2 linked regions of the Homo sapiens genome follow. The protein of the gene in region 1 interacts with the protein of each later gene in a pairwise test. Each region holds a gene or a part of one and is shown on either strand. Other genes may lie near its edges.

The links. The genes of interacting proteins can lie anywhere in the genome.
Region 2: the proteins of SLC66A1 (region 1) and SLC39A9 interact in binary tests that used the Homo sapiens proteins (3 or more experiments, as listed by UniProt).

The regions. Positions count from the first base shown.
Region 1 is NC_000001.11:19,322,325-19,329,359, reverse strand, and holds the end of SLC66A1 (lysosomal amino acid transporter 1 homolog), read right to left. Parts: intron 4,728-7,035; coding exon 4,598-4,727; intron 3,866-4,597; coding exon 3,778-3,865; intron 3,116-3,777; coding exon 2,973-3,115; intron 2,830-2,972; coding exon 2,737-2,829; intron 2,134-2,736; coding exon 1,948-2,133; exon of another isoform or gene 1,790-1,947; coding exon of another isoform or gene 1,739-1,789; exon of another isoform or gene 789-1,738; coding exon 717-788; 3' UTR 60-716; downstream 1-59. UniProt on the Homo sapiens protein: Amino acid transporter that specifically mediates the pH-dependent export of the cationic amino acids arginine, histidine and lysine from lysosomes.
Region 2 is NC_000014.9:69,401,673-69,408,707, reverse strand, and holds part of SLC39A9 (zinc transporter ZIP9), read right to left. Parts: intron 1-7,035. UniProt on the Homo sapiens protein: Transports zinc ions across cell and organelle membranes into the cytoplasm and regulates intracellular zinc homeostasis. Participates in the zinc ions efflux out of the secretory compartments.

The DNA.
Region 1 (7,035 bases):
GGTCCCCAAAGCAGCCCCGATCCCTCAGCACCTTGGGGAAGGAGCAACAGAAGCAGGTCTCATGGGGAGGTACCGTTTCCTCGGTTATCTTTTTTATTTTTTTGAGACGGAGTCTCACTCTGTCACCCAGGCTGGAGTACAGTGGCACGATCTCGGTTCACCGCAACCTCTGTCTCCCAGGTTCAAACAGTTCTCCTGCCTCAGCCTCCCAAGTAGCTGGGACTACAGATGTGTGCCACCACACCTGGCTAATTTTTGTATTTTTAGTAGAGATGGGGTTTCACCATGTTGGCCAGGCTGGTCTCGAACTACGGACGTCAAGTGGTCCACCCGCTTCGGCCTCCCAAAGTGCTAGGATTACAGGTGCGAGCCACTGTACCCGGCCTGTTTATTCAGTTGTCTGGAGTTGACAGGACAGTCCTGAGTCCAGCAGGCTGTGGCTGTGGCCCCTGGGGTGAGTAGGCAGAATGAGGTAGGTGGTAGGAGGGGCAGCCTCACTGTCTCCTGAGAGGCCCTGGGGTCTCCGCTCCAGCCCCGGCCTTGAGGCTTCGGGGTCTACCTGAAGGTGTGTTCCTGGGGGGACGGTTCGGTCCACGGAGGATCCAGAGGCCACCCGCAGGCTGATGCAGGGCCGCCGTACCATCACTGTCCACACCTCCTCCTGCCTGGTGTGGCATCCGGTGGTGCCTGTCCTCCTGCGCTCAGCCTGGTTCTGGTCAGCTGGGGAGGAGGGGCTCAAGCTCCGAGGCGGCGGTGCTGCGCCTGTACACCAGGAACTGGATGGAGATCTGGGGGTGCCGCCGTTAAGGCCAAGCTGAGCAGAGACTGGGTTGGACCTGCCCCTGGGGGCCTTCGACTCCTGGGAGCTGCCTCCCTCTCCCCTCCCTCCCACCCCCACGCTGCAGGTGGGAAGGGCCAGCCATAACCTCCCAGCCGCTACCTTAGCTGTGCCCTCCACTCAGAACTTCTGCCCGGCTCCTCAAGCCCTAGCCAAGCTCCATCTGTCTCCAAGCCTAGCACTGACTTCTCCTTCCCGTGGGCAGCCTCCCTTGACCCTGGCCCAGGATCTTCGCTTGCTCTCAGCTGTGGCGTCCTGGAGGCTTCCAGGTGGCTGGGCCGTTTTGGGGCACAAGAGCCTAAACTTTCACCCCTCCCTGCGCCCGGCAGGGACTTAACAAATATTAAAACAAAGGCCATGTTTACTTGCTCCGAAATGAGACCCAGGTAACGCTCTTTACAGCCATTCAGCAAACACTTTCTGAGCCCTCACTGAAAACGGGGTCCTGTGGGGAGTGTTTCCAGATACCTCATCTTACACAACATCCTGACGAGACAGTGGCTGTTAACTGAGGTGAAGACACGGCAGCACAGAGAGGTTGACTGTGTGCCCTGCGTCACACAGCTAGGAAGCAGGGGAGGAGCCAGGATTTGAACCCAGGTTTGTCTGACCAAGTCATGTGTCTCTCCACACTCCAGCTCTCGTCTGCACAGCCTAGAACATTCCTCTCCTGCCTTCGCCTGACTTCTCCTACTCTGTCAAGTCACAGGTTCAATGAGACTTATAGGGGCCTTTGCTGCCCCTCTAACCAGGACGGTCCCTGGCTAGACGCTCTTGTTGTTTTTCTCTGCAGCACTTGGTGCCACTGCAATGAAGTAATTCTTTGATGATAGCGTTGTGTCCTCTCTGCGCCCCGCTGGGCTGTAAGCTTCTGGGGCACTCATGGCTGTTCTTGCTCACTCACGGCTCCAGGGTCCAGCTGGGTGCCTGGCACACAGGAGGTGTGCACGACTGGGTGAACAGATGGAGGGAGGGAGGGAGGGAGGGAGGGATGGATGGATGGACGGATGGATGAAGGGAGGAAGAGACGGATGAGTGCTGACGCTGTGTGCAGGCAGAAGCTTCCTTGCCCACACCCCGCCACCTGCCCCACACGCCCTGAAGGATACGATGGTGTCGAGCAGCAGCACGCCCAGGCTGCCCACAAGCCAGGGCAGGTGGTGCAGCAGGTAGCTGCCCTCGCTCTGGCCCTCCTCGGGGTTTTTGAGCAGCACGCTCAGCCCATACAGCGTGTTCCCCAGCATCACCAGCGCGAACAGAGAGTAGGAGATCCCCTGGGTGGACTTCCGGAGGAACTGGGGCAGGAGGAGGTCAGGTCAGAGACCTCGAACAGGCCTCTTGTCACTCTGGATTGTAACTGTCCACATGTCCACCTGCCCCACCACAGTGCACCTGCTCTGAGCCAATCTTTCCCTGGGTGCCCAGGGATATGGGCCCGACACACAGAAGAGCCTCCTCCCACCCACAGACAAGCCCCCCCAGGCCCCTGCCCAGGTCCACGGGAGACCGTGGCTGTGCCAGGCCTGTGGCCCCACACCACCCTGCATTCCACCCCACACAGGCTCTAGCTGCCCAGCAAGCCTCCCCTCCCCGACTCCCCAGCTTCTCCTCTCCCCTCAGGCCTCCAAGCTCAGCCCCTCACCTTCCCCTGACCTCCCACTCCCCCAAGACACACATGGGCCTCTTGTAGCCTGGCTGGCAGGCCACGCCACGCCCATTTTCCAGAAGCAGAAATGGAGGCTCGGAGATTGGATTAACTTGCCCAAGCCAACAGCGGGAGTAGACCAGACTTTCTGAACCAAGGCTCCTATGCTGTGCTACTCCTTAGCCCAGAGGGCCCGGGTGGCCAGGCCAGCTCTCCTCTACTCGGCCCCACCCAGCCCCTGCTGGAGGCTCACGTTGGTGCGGATCTGAGGCAGCCGGGAAAGCAGGTACAACACGCTGGAGATGGAGCCGATGACGAAGCCAATGACTTCCTGCCGGGTGAAGGGCTGTGGGGCAGAAGGGGGCACTTGGTGTCTCGTAGGAGCCAGAGGTGATCCCCCACCCCATTTAGCACCCATGAGGCTGTGCAGGGGAGAGCCCTGGGGATGAGCCAGCCTCCATCCCTTCGACCGCCACGCCCACGCCTCACCTTGCTGCCCGACTCCACGGACAGGAGCGCCCGCCCCCGGAAGGCTTCCCTAGGGGCAGCCACGGGCCCAGCAGCACTCAGCAGCGGTGTGGCGCACGCCATCCCCATGAGGAACAACAGCACGGAGTTGATGGGGGCAGACACTGCACACAAGGCAGGGGGAAGCTGAGGTTAGATGGCTGAGTGGCAGCGGTTGTCGGGGGAGGGTGCTAAGTCCTGGCCTTGCCCCTCAGGGGCTGTGTGACCTTGGGCAAGTGACCTAACCTCTCTGAGCTTTCATTCTTCATCTGTCGAATGGGTACAACAACAGTACCCTTCTCCTAGAGTTATAAAGGTGAAACGCTGAGGGCAGGGAGGTCAGGAGGGGGTTACACGAAGCAGGAACGCTGATGAGACAACTTCCTCCCCAGGTCCCTCCCCGTGTCTGTATAGCCTCAAGCTGACCTTGTCTCCTGCTCCTCCTGAAGGCTGGGGCAGAGGCAGCCTGTGTGACTTGCCCTCGTTTCCCCAGCTCCAAGCCCAGGGCCGGACACAGAGGAGGAGCTGGAGCTGTGTCTGCTGAATGAGCCCCTGGGCGAGAGGAACCGGCCTGTGGTCTGGGCCAGGACGCGCTCACTGCCCTCAAGCCTCTATCTTGGCCAGTTAAGGCTCAGGCTCTTAGATAAGGCCCGGGGAAGGCTTTCCGAGGTTTGGGTTATCACCCAGCCATGGGAAACCCGCTTCCTCCCACACTCCAGGCGCCCCCCCCCACAACTGCCCCCTGCTGCTGGTAGAGCATCTGACAGAGAGCGGTCCCCATACTCACACAGAGAGGGGCGCGTCCTGAACTTGTAGTAAAAGTACAGCGTCAGCATCACCAGGTCTGCCAAGACATAATACACAGCCGTGTAGGTCTGTAAGAGATGCAGGGGGCCCAGGGGTTGGCGCAGTCCCAGGATCTGAGACCACGCCCCGGCAGCCCTCTGTCATATCCCAGCTGGGTGACCCGGACCAAGTCACTTCTCCTCTCTGAGCTTCTGTTTCCTTATCTGGCAAGGAAGAACTCCCAGTTCCCACCTGGCAGAATGACAGAACAGGTGGGCGAAAGACCCAGGAAAGGATCTAGCCCAGGAGGGGCCAATGAGCTGGTGGTCAGCGCTAGCAGTCAGGACAAAGTGGGACTCCGCGGTGAAGTGATGGCTCTGGTTTGGCCTGACACCAGGGCAGTCAGAACTTTCTGGTCCCACATGGGAAGACAATGCCTTCCTGATTGGGAGCCCCAGCTCTGCCTGCCCACAGGAGCAGGATGGCATCTGGGCCTCCCACGGAAAAACTCCCTTTCTCCTCGAGGGGCCCACCCTCTGAAAGCTTCGCCAGCACTCCAGCACCCTGGAGGTGGAAGACCCCGAAACCTTCCTGTTAGACATGCTCATATTGCAGATGGGGAAACTGAGGCCCAGAGAAGAGCAGTGACCTGCCCACAGTCACAGTTCGGCAGACAGAAGGATGGGGCCCTCCCACAAGATGGAATGACGGGTCAGGGTTCTGGAGACCAGGCGGGCCAAAGAGCCTGGCATCTCCTCAGGCAACCCTGCAGGGTGAAGCAGGGTTAGGGGTAGCGCCACCTTGCCCGGGTACCGGCCCACCTGCAGGGGCAGCTGGTCAGCAAGGAAGGAGCCGATGAGGTTGCAGGAGTCTCCGCCAATCCAGCCCAGGAGGAACCACAGGGACAGCGCCTGGTCCATGTTGCCCGTCTTGTAGGCTTTGATGAACTGGCTGTGGAAGAGGAAGAGGAAGGGATGCATGCTCAGGCCACCTTACAGGGGATGCCGCCTTATAGGGGACACCGCCCAGAGGAGACGACCATGGGGATCGAGGCGGCGATGGAGAGGAAGTGGCCTGGCGGCCCATCCTCCCCACGGGCGGGATCCTCAGAAGCCTTCTCGGCCCTTTGGAGGAGTCCCCTGGGGAATCCCTTCTAAGCCGAGGACTCTACGGCTGTGCATCTCTCCAGGGAAAGCCGCAGCCTTACTCAGATTCTCCTCTACCACACCCTGGGGTCTCCAGTGGGGATCTGGGGCTTATGTAGGGTCCTGAAGTTTTGTGTTGGGCCCTGACAACCGCTGCATAGAACCCTGGATCCTTTCTCCTGTGGATGCAGGGAAGGGCATTGCAACAAGAACAGTGCTGGGAAAGGGACGTGCGGGCCGAAGGCCTGGGCACGCCGGGTCTCCAGGAGCAGCTGTAGCCAAGACAGGCAGAACCCCAGCCCAGTTCTCTTTAGAGGGCAACAGAGAAGGGCGGGGCTGAGGCGCCTGGAGCTCCACTATCAAGGTAGTAGGCTTTTGGTCCCCTGGTTGTTTTCCCAAAGGTCCTTGGTGCTGGGACCCTCTTAGGACTTCTGGCCAGGTGTGGGTACGAGGCCAAAGCTGGCGGTGGCACTAAGGCCCAGGGCAGTTCTGAGCCCTCTGCATGTGTGTTGACTCATTCTGTCCTCAAGACACCTGTGCTGTCCAGTCTACCACGATGACCTCCTCACTGGGCCTGGAGGAAGCCGTGCCATACCACTCGGATTCAACCCCTACCTGAGCCTCCGGTCTTGCTCTTAACCATTATACATACTGCCATTTACTGTTCCAGTTTCTCTTTAACCACCTGCATGCATGAAGGAAAACAGACAGACAGAAAGAAACTAAATGGTGGCCAGACACGGTTGGCTCACACCTGCAATCCCAACACTTTGGGAGGTTGAGGAGGGTGGATCACTTGAGGCCAGAAGTTCGAGACCAGCCTGGCCAACATGGTGAAACCCCATCTCTACCAAAAATACAAAAATCAGCCAGGCATGGTGGCGCACGCCTGTAATCCCAGCTGTTCAGGAGGCTGAGGGATGAGAATTGCTTGAAGCCAGGAGGTGGAGGTTGCAGTAAGCCGAGATCACACCACTGCACTCCAGCCTGGGCAACAGAGCAAGACCCTGTCTCAAAAAAGAAAATAAAAAGAAACAAAGAAACTAACTAACTAAATGGCAGCTCATCCCATCCATTATCCAAGCCAGAAACTAAGAAACCGGCATTCTTCCCACAGCGAGTCCTTCCACCTGCCTCCCTCAGCCTCCTAACAAGCCTCCCTCCTTTCAGAAATCTTTCATCCTCCCTTTCAGAAATCTTTCTAAAACCCCCATCTCAGCCAGAAGCAGTGGCTTATGCCTATAATCCCAACACTTTGGAGGCTGGGTGTGGTAGCTCACACCTGTAATCCCAGCACTTCAGGAGGCTGAGGCAAGAGAATCACTTGAGCCTACAAGTTCAAGACCAGCCTGGGCAACACAGCAAGACCCTGTCTCTACCAAAAAAAAAAATTAGCCAAGTGTGGAGTGGGGACCTGTGGTCCCAGCTACTCAAGAGGCTGAGGTGGGAGGATCACTTGAGCCCAAGAGGTTGAGGCTGCAGTGAGTTATGAATGCACCACTGCACTTCAGACTGGATGACACAGTGAGACCTTGTCTCAAAAAAAAAAAAAATTGTCTTTAATAACAAATAAAAAACTAAAACCCCAGTGTCACCAAAAACTGCCAGAGCCTTCCAGTGCTCTTGGATAAAGGCCCCCATTCTGTGAGGGGATCCTTGCAAGGCCCCAGGCTCGCCGCCCCAGGATGGCTCTCTTCCTCCCAGCTCTGGTCTCAGATGTCCCGCTCACCCCTCCTCAGGCCCAGAGACCTCGGAGTCATCTTTCCCGTCTCAGGAAATGTCGGTTCCTCCTCTGGGCCTCCCCGACACGAGCTCCGCTGGCATCTTCTCCTTCCTCCTTTGAAACACTTGACATCCCCGTCCCTCCCAGATTCCCTCAAGTTTCCTGAGGACAGGGGGAGTGACTAGCATAGGCCCAGCACTGAGAAGGCCCTTAATCAAGGTTTATCCCTTACAGTAAAGCTCCTCCTAAGATGCTATGACTCGACTTGTCTTCATCAATTGCAGGAAAGTGATTCTGTCCCACTCAGGAGAGACTGAGTCCTAGGGAAGACCAGGGGGGCAGCCACCCTCTCTCCATCACTTAGGGCTCTCTCCCAGGCCTCCAATCCCCT
Region 2 (7,035 bases), on another chromosome or scaffold:
TGTAGACTCACAAACATGGGTTGTTTGGCCCACGCACTGATACAATATTTGAATAAGTAGCCAAAGGATAAAATTCAGGAGACTTCATATAAAAATCCAGATTTCTAGCTTTGGAAAAATAGGAAGATTTGGTGTCATCAAATGATATGTGCCCTTTAGATGCCCACAGTTCTCACTTCTCCCTAATGACTCCCAGGCACTGACACTGAAGGTCAGCTGCCATATATCATGACACTGGGGCTGTCTTATTTTACTCCAGGCTTAATTCTCTGTTCAGCCTTATTTGATTTTATGATCCATTACCTACCTCTATCAGTCAGGGTCCTTTCATCAAAGAGAAAGCATAAAGTAATTTGAAGAGAGAAAGTTTAACATAAAGAATACCTACAAAAGGGGGCTGGGCATGGTGGCTCATACCTGTAATCCCAGCACTTCCGGAGGCCAAGGCGGGCTGATCAACTGAGGTCAGGAGTTTGAGAACAGCCTGGCCAACATGGCAAAACCCTGTCTCTACCAAAAATACAAAAATTAGCCGGGCGTGTTGGTAGGCAGCCGTAATCTCAGCTACTTGGGAGGCTGAGGCAGGAGAATCACTTGAACCCAAAGAGAGAGGTTGTGGTGAGCCAAGATCATACCACTGCACTCCTGCCTGGGCAACAGAGCAAGACTCCATCTCAAAATAAGAAAGAAAGAAAAAAGGAATACCTATAAAAGCATAAAAGGGGACTAGAATGATGAGGAATTGACTAAGAGAGAACCGTAAAGAATATAATAGCAGGGCCGGGTGCGGTGGCTCATGCCTGTAATCCCAGCACTTTGGGAGGCCGGATTCACCTGAGGTCGGGAGTTCAAGACTAGCCTGACCAACACGGAAAAACCCTGTCTCTACTAAAACTACAAAACTAGCCAGGCATGGTGGCAGGCGCCTGTAATCCCAGCTACTTGGGAGGCTGAGGCAGGAAAATCTCTTGAACCTGAGAGGAGGAGGTTGCAGTGAGCCGAGATCGTGCCATTGCACTCCAGCCTGGGCAACAACAGCAAAATTCTGTCTCAAAATAAAAAAAAAAAGAAAGAAAATTGGCCGGGCGCAGTGGCTCACGCCTGTAATCCCAGCACTTTGGGAGGCCTAGGCGGGCAGACCACCTGAGGTAAGGAGTTTGAGACCAACATGGAGAAACCCTGTCTCTAACTAAAAATACAAAATTAGTGGGGCGTGGTGGTGCATGCCTGTAATCCCAGCTACTTGGGAGGCTGAGGCAGGAGAATCACTTGAACCTGGGAGGCGGAGGTTATGGTGAGTCAAGATCATGCCATTGCAGTCCAGCCTGGGCAACAAGAGTGAAATTTGGAAGGAAGGAAAGAAGAAAGGAAGGAAGAAAGGAAGGAAGGAAGGAAGGAAGGAAGGGAAGGAAGGGAAGGAAGGAAAGGAAAGAAAGGAAGGAAGGAAATTAACGTCAGATAAATACAGGGTTTGCAATAGATAGTTTGATGTAATTATCTATTAGTTACCCTCAAGACCTTTTCATTTAAAAATGAATTTCCATGTAAGAATTTCCAGGGCTGGGTGTGGTGGCTCATGCCTGTAATCCCAGAACTTTGGGAGGCCGAGGCAGGCAGATCTCAAGGCCAGGAGATCCAGATCATCCTGGCTAACATGGTGAAACCTTGTCTCTACTAAAAATACAAAAAATTAGCTGGTTATGGTGGCACGCACCTGTAATCCCATCTACTGGGGGGGCTGAGGCAGGAGAATTGCTTGAACCTGGGAAGGGGAGGTTGCAGTGAGCTGAGATCACGCCACTGCACTCCAGCCTGGGCGACAGAGCAAGACTCCATCTCAAAAAAAAAAAAAAAAAAAACAAAGAATTTCCAGTCTAACTAATATTTATTTCCATTTTATTTCAATAAGTTAAAAACTGAATATTAGTATTCAAGGAAGACTGAGATTTCTGTAATTTCATTATAGGTTTTAAGAAATACCAGTACTCATACTTAGTACTACTACTTTTTTTTTTTTTTTTTAAGACAGTCTCGCTCTGTTGCCCAGGCTGGAGTGCCATGGTACAATCTCAGCTCACTGCAATCTCCGACTCCAAGGTTCAAGCAATTCTCCTGCCTCAGCCTCCCGAGTAGCTGGGATTACAGGCGTGAGCCACTGCGCTCAGCCCAGTGTGGAATTCCATACTGAGCTGAAGGGGATCTTATCATTCAACAAAAGTCTCATCATTAAATTCTTTAATTAGAGGAGAGGTTAAGACTATCATATACAGAAACATTCTGAATCCATTTCATGTCATCTTCTCTTGAAAAGGATGTCACTTCTTGAACAGCACAATTTACGACTAACCTGTGAGGATGTCAAGTGTGAAATTCATCTTGGATAGTTCACAATAGGAACTACTTCAGATTCCAAATTGGCAGGTGTTAATTTAAAAGGCATCTAAGACATATTAACTTATTTCTTATAGGTTTCAATGGTATTTGGAGACTGTTTACCTCTGGAGTTTCAAGTTCTACTCCACTGACTAGGCAGAAAGCATGAGATATACTGTGGAAGGTATGAAAGATGTTCCTAATTTGGGGAGCTAAAGGCATCAATTTAGGTAGATCCTATTTTCATTCCTTCTTTACACAGCATTCATTAGGAAAGGCAACATTTAGTAGTCAAGTGACTGATTTGGCAACAGGAATCAAAATGACTTAGTTCCAAATCACACCTCTACCAGAGTCTGTGACCTCTTCAAGCCTGAGTTTGCTCATTTGTAAAGTGAGGTTTAACAGTATCTCATAGTCTTGGTCCTGAGGATTAATAAGATAGTGCATATCATTGCCTGGTATACAGAAAGAGCTCAATAAACATTATTAATATTATTATGCAGATAAGTCTTAATTATGTTTATCAATATAGTATCCTGGAGAAAACAAAGTTTTTCAGGAAAATAATATTGAATCATATTGCAACCGGATTTTATTTGATCCAAACTTAGTTTTATCAAGGATCCTTATGAAACAATAATCTGTAGTTCAATCTGAGAAAAGACAAGCTGATGATTTCTTTCCAGATATGGATAAATTTACTGAGATTGCAAAGTTTAAAATTTTATAATTTACGTTCATTCATCTGAGACAGGGTCTCACTTGTTGCCCAGGTTGGTCTCAAACTCCTGGCCTCAAGCAAACTTCCAGCTTCAGCCTCCTAAAGCACTGGGATTACAGGTATAAGCCACCATGCCCGGCTCAAATCTTAGAATTTACAAATGAAATTCCAAACAGGTATAAAATCTCTTGTATTACCATAAGAGGGTAAGAGCAATGTACCAGACAATATAAAAGTCCTTAAAAATGTAACATTGTTAAATCTACTTCAAAGAGAACCTATTGTAGAGGCAGAAGCATACTGAATAAATCTGTTCTTCAGACACAATAAACCTTTGATTTGCGGGTAACTCAAACCCCTAAAGATACTTATTATGAATGAGTCAGTTATTATAATCAGACACTGATATGGTTTGGTTGTGTCCCCACCCAAATCTCATCTTGAGTTGTAGTTCCCATGCGAGGGACCTGGTGGGAGGTCATGCTGTTCTTGTGATAGTGAGTTCTTGCTGTTCTTGTGACAGTGAGTTCTCACGAGATCTGATGGTTTTATAAGGGGCTTTCCCCCTTTTGCTCAGCACTTCTCCATCCTGCCGCCCCATGAAGAAGGATGTGTTTGCCTCCTCTTCTGCCATGATTGTAAGTTTCCTTAGGCCTCCCCAGCTATGCTGAATTGTGAGTCAATCAAACCTCTTTCGTTTATAAATTACCCAGTCTCAGAAATGTCTTTATTAGCAGTGTAAGAATGGACTAATACAGACACAAAACTTTAAAACACGAAAGAACAAAACAAAGCTTAAAATGAGAGTAAGTATAATGAAGAAAAGAGAGTTAAATACTAAGAAAAATAGTATAAAGCAGGGAGGGTAGAGGAAAAGCCCTGGCCTCTCCAAATAGAATGGTAAATAGTAATGCAAACCAAACCCCACAACAAGACCTTTGGATTCCAAACAAATTGCCGAGAAGTTTCCATGACTGCGAAGGGGAGGAGGGGGAGGAGCTTCCCATTATTAAGTCTGTTTCCAAATAAAAGGTTTAACAATTATAAATTAGAACAAAGTTATAAAAATGAAAATCTTTACAAGTTTTTCTAATCAGTATTGAGAATCTGCCTCAATATTTTTGAAAGTTTTTATTATGTTCTAGACATAGTGTTAAGCCTGTGCTTATATTATTTCAACCTCACAACAATCCTAGAAGGTCATTTAACAGAAGAGATTTGGATTTTAATAGCTTGTTCAAGTAGTAACATTGACTTTGAATGATACTGTCTCAGACAGTCCCTTTTGAAATCAGTGCATTATTAATCATATTCATCTTTAAAATCATCCTAAGAATAGCACTACTTTCATCTGCCAACTTATGGATTTATGCTGTTGGTTATTTTAGGGAGTAGGTCTCCTTATGTTGCCAGTGGCTATTCACAGGCACACTCATAGCTCACTGCAACCCTGAACTCCTGGGCTCAAGTGATCCTCCCACATCAGCATTTGGAGTAGCTGGGACTAACCAGTGTGTGCCACTACATCCAGTTTTGCTGTTTTTGTTTGTTTGTTTTTTGTTTTTTTGAGAGGGAGTTTTGCTCTTGCTGCCCAGGCTGGAGTGCAATGGCGCAATGTTGGTTCACTGCAACCTCCGCCTCCCAGGTTCAAGCGATTCTCCTGCCTCAGCCCCCCAAGTAGCTGGGATTACAGGCACGTGCCACCACGCCCAAATAATTTTGTATTTTCAGTAGACACAGGGTTTCTCCGTGTTGGTCAGGGTGGTCTCGAACTCCCGACCTCAGATGATTCGCCTGCCTCGGCCTCCCAAAGTGCTGGGATTACAGGCGTGAGCCACCACGCCTGGCCTGCTTTGCTGTTTTAATACATGAAAAATGTGGCATTATAACTCAAACTGGTCTGCAATAAGAAAAGTATGGCAACTGAGATAAAGCCTTCAGAAATTTTTAGAGCAATATGATTATTACAATTATAGTAGTAATTTTTTATCTGTTGAATTTAACAATACATTTGGGCTTGTATTTTCTATGTCTTTTTTTCACTTCATTTTCCTACTATTTCATTTTTATAAGTGTATTGGTATGGATTGAAATAAAAATTAAAAACAAAAACTGATCCTTTACCAGGCAGTTTGAGGAATATTGCTGTAGAGCTCTGAGCCAAAAACAGCTTGCTCTCTGTTACCAGCTCTGTGACAAAGAGGAGACATACTCAGGTGAGTAACAACCCTCAGATAATCAATCTGAAATCCCACTTGAGCCATCTGTTTTTGTATCATAGCTCCATTTATCAACTGCAGCAGCACTGAGTTTATACTAGGTAATATAGGCTCTCAACCTACTTATGTAACATTGTTATTTAGAGCCAAAGAAAACTACTCATTAGCAATTCAATCGAAAAAACATAAGACAGTGTTAACTATAAACCAACGGGTCTCACTCCCTTACCAAACAGGGCTTCCTTTGTGTAAAGCATGCTTTGGCCTCCTTTATTTATTTATTTTTATTTATTTATTTTTATTTTTTTCTGAGACAAAGTTTTGCTCTTGTTCCCCAGGCTGGAGTGCAATGGTGGGACTCGGCTCACTGCAACCTCCGCCTCCTGGGTTCAAGCAATTCTCCTGTCTCAGCCTCCTGAGTAGCTGGGATTACAGGCACATGCCACCACGCCCAGCTAATTTTTGTATTTTTAGTAGAGATGGGGTTTCGCCATGTTGGCCAGGCTGGTCTCGAACTCCTGACCTCAGGTAATCCGCCCACCTCAGCCTCCCAAAGTGCTGGGATTACAGGCGTGAGCCACTTAGCACCTGGCTGGCCTCCTTTAAAAGTTAAAAGTGTTTCTCTTTCCTGTATACTGAAAAAATTTACATCCTGATTATCATAGTTACTTATAATTGCATTTGAGAATCGGATTTTTTTTCCTTTGTTTTATAAATTTTTAAGGCATGAAAGTACAGTTGCCAGGTCAAAGGGCAAGGAAGAAGGCCACAAAAGTATCAAGAAAGGTAGTTTTGGGGTGAGGAGAAACTGACAGAGAAATCAATGTCACATAAACCTCTTGGTGGGCACATCTGGCAGGTAGACCCCACCACTACTGCAATTTCAGACTACCTAATTTTAACTCGTTTTTAAATACTAATCTTGCCATAATTGATCATCTGACTTTTATTCCTGTTCTGAGATATTTTTAGAAAAAGTATTGAATGAGAAAGCAGCAGCAAGATTAAAAACATGAATAAAAAGCATATCTTTTCATGTAAATCAAGCTTGTCCAACTCATGGCTCGTGGGCCGCATGCAACCCAGGAGCACTTTGAATGAAGCCTTACACAAATTCATAAACTTTCTTAAAACATTATGAGTTTTTTTTTGCATTTTTTTTTTTTAGCTCATCACCTATCTTAGTGTTAGTGTATTTTATGTGTGGCTTGAGATAATTCTTCTTCTGATGTGGCCCAGGGAAGCCAAAAGATTGGACACCCCTGATGTAAACGAAAGTGAACTGTAAAACAGTAACACTAGCCTCTAAGAAAGCCAGACTTCCTTAAAAAGGCAAGTCATTTATCCAGTGTAGGAGTTTGGGGAATTATTTTCTAAGGAAAGAAATGGTGCTTTCCAGTCCCCCGTGAATGAAATTTATTTTTACAAATTTACCATCTCACTAGTTTCATTACAACATTGGTCCATAATAATGGCATAATTTACCTAGAAAATATGTTTAGTTCCTAGGAGATAGAAATCCTAGTTGAATTCTAGGATGTCTTTAAGTTATATATAACTTTCATTTTTTATTCTAATAGCTCAAAATGCATTGCATCTACTCTAATAATAAACAGATATTATGAATGCTGATTTTAGCATTTTAAGACCTACAGCTGGAAAAGACCATCTGACCGTCAATTTAAGAAAGCCACAAATGACATGACATACTAATTATCT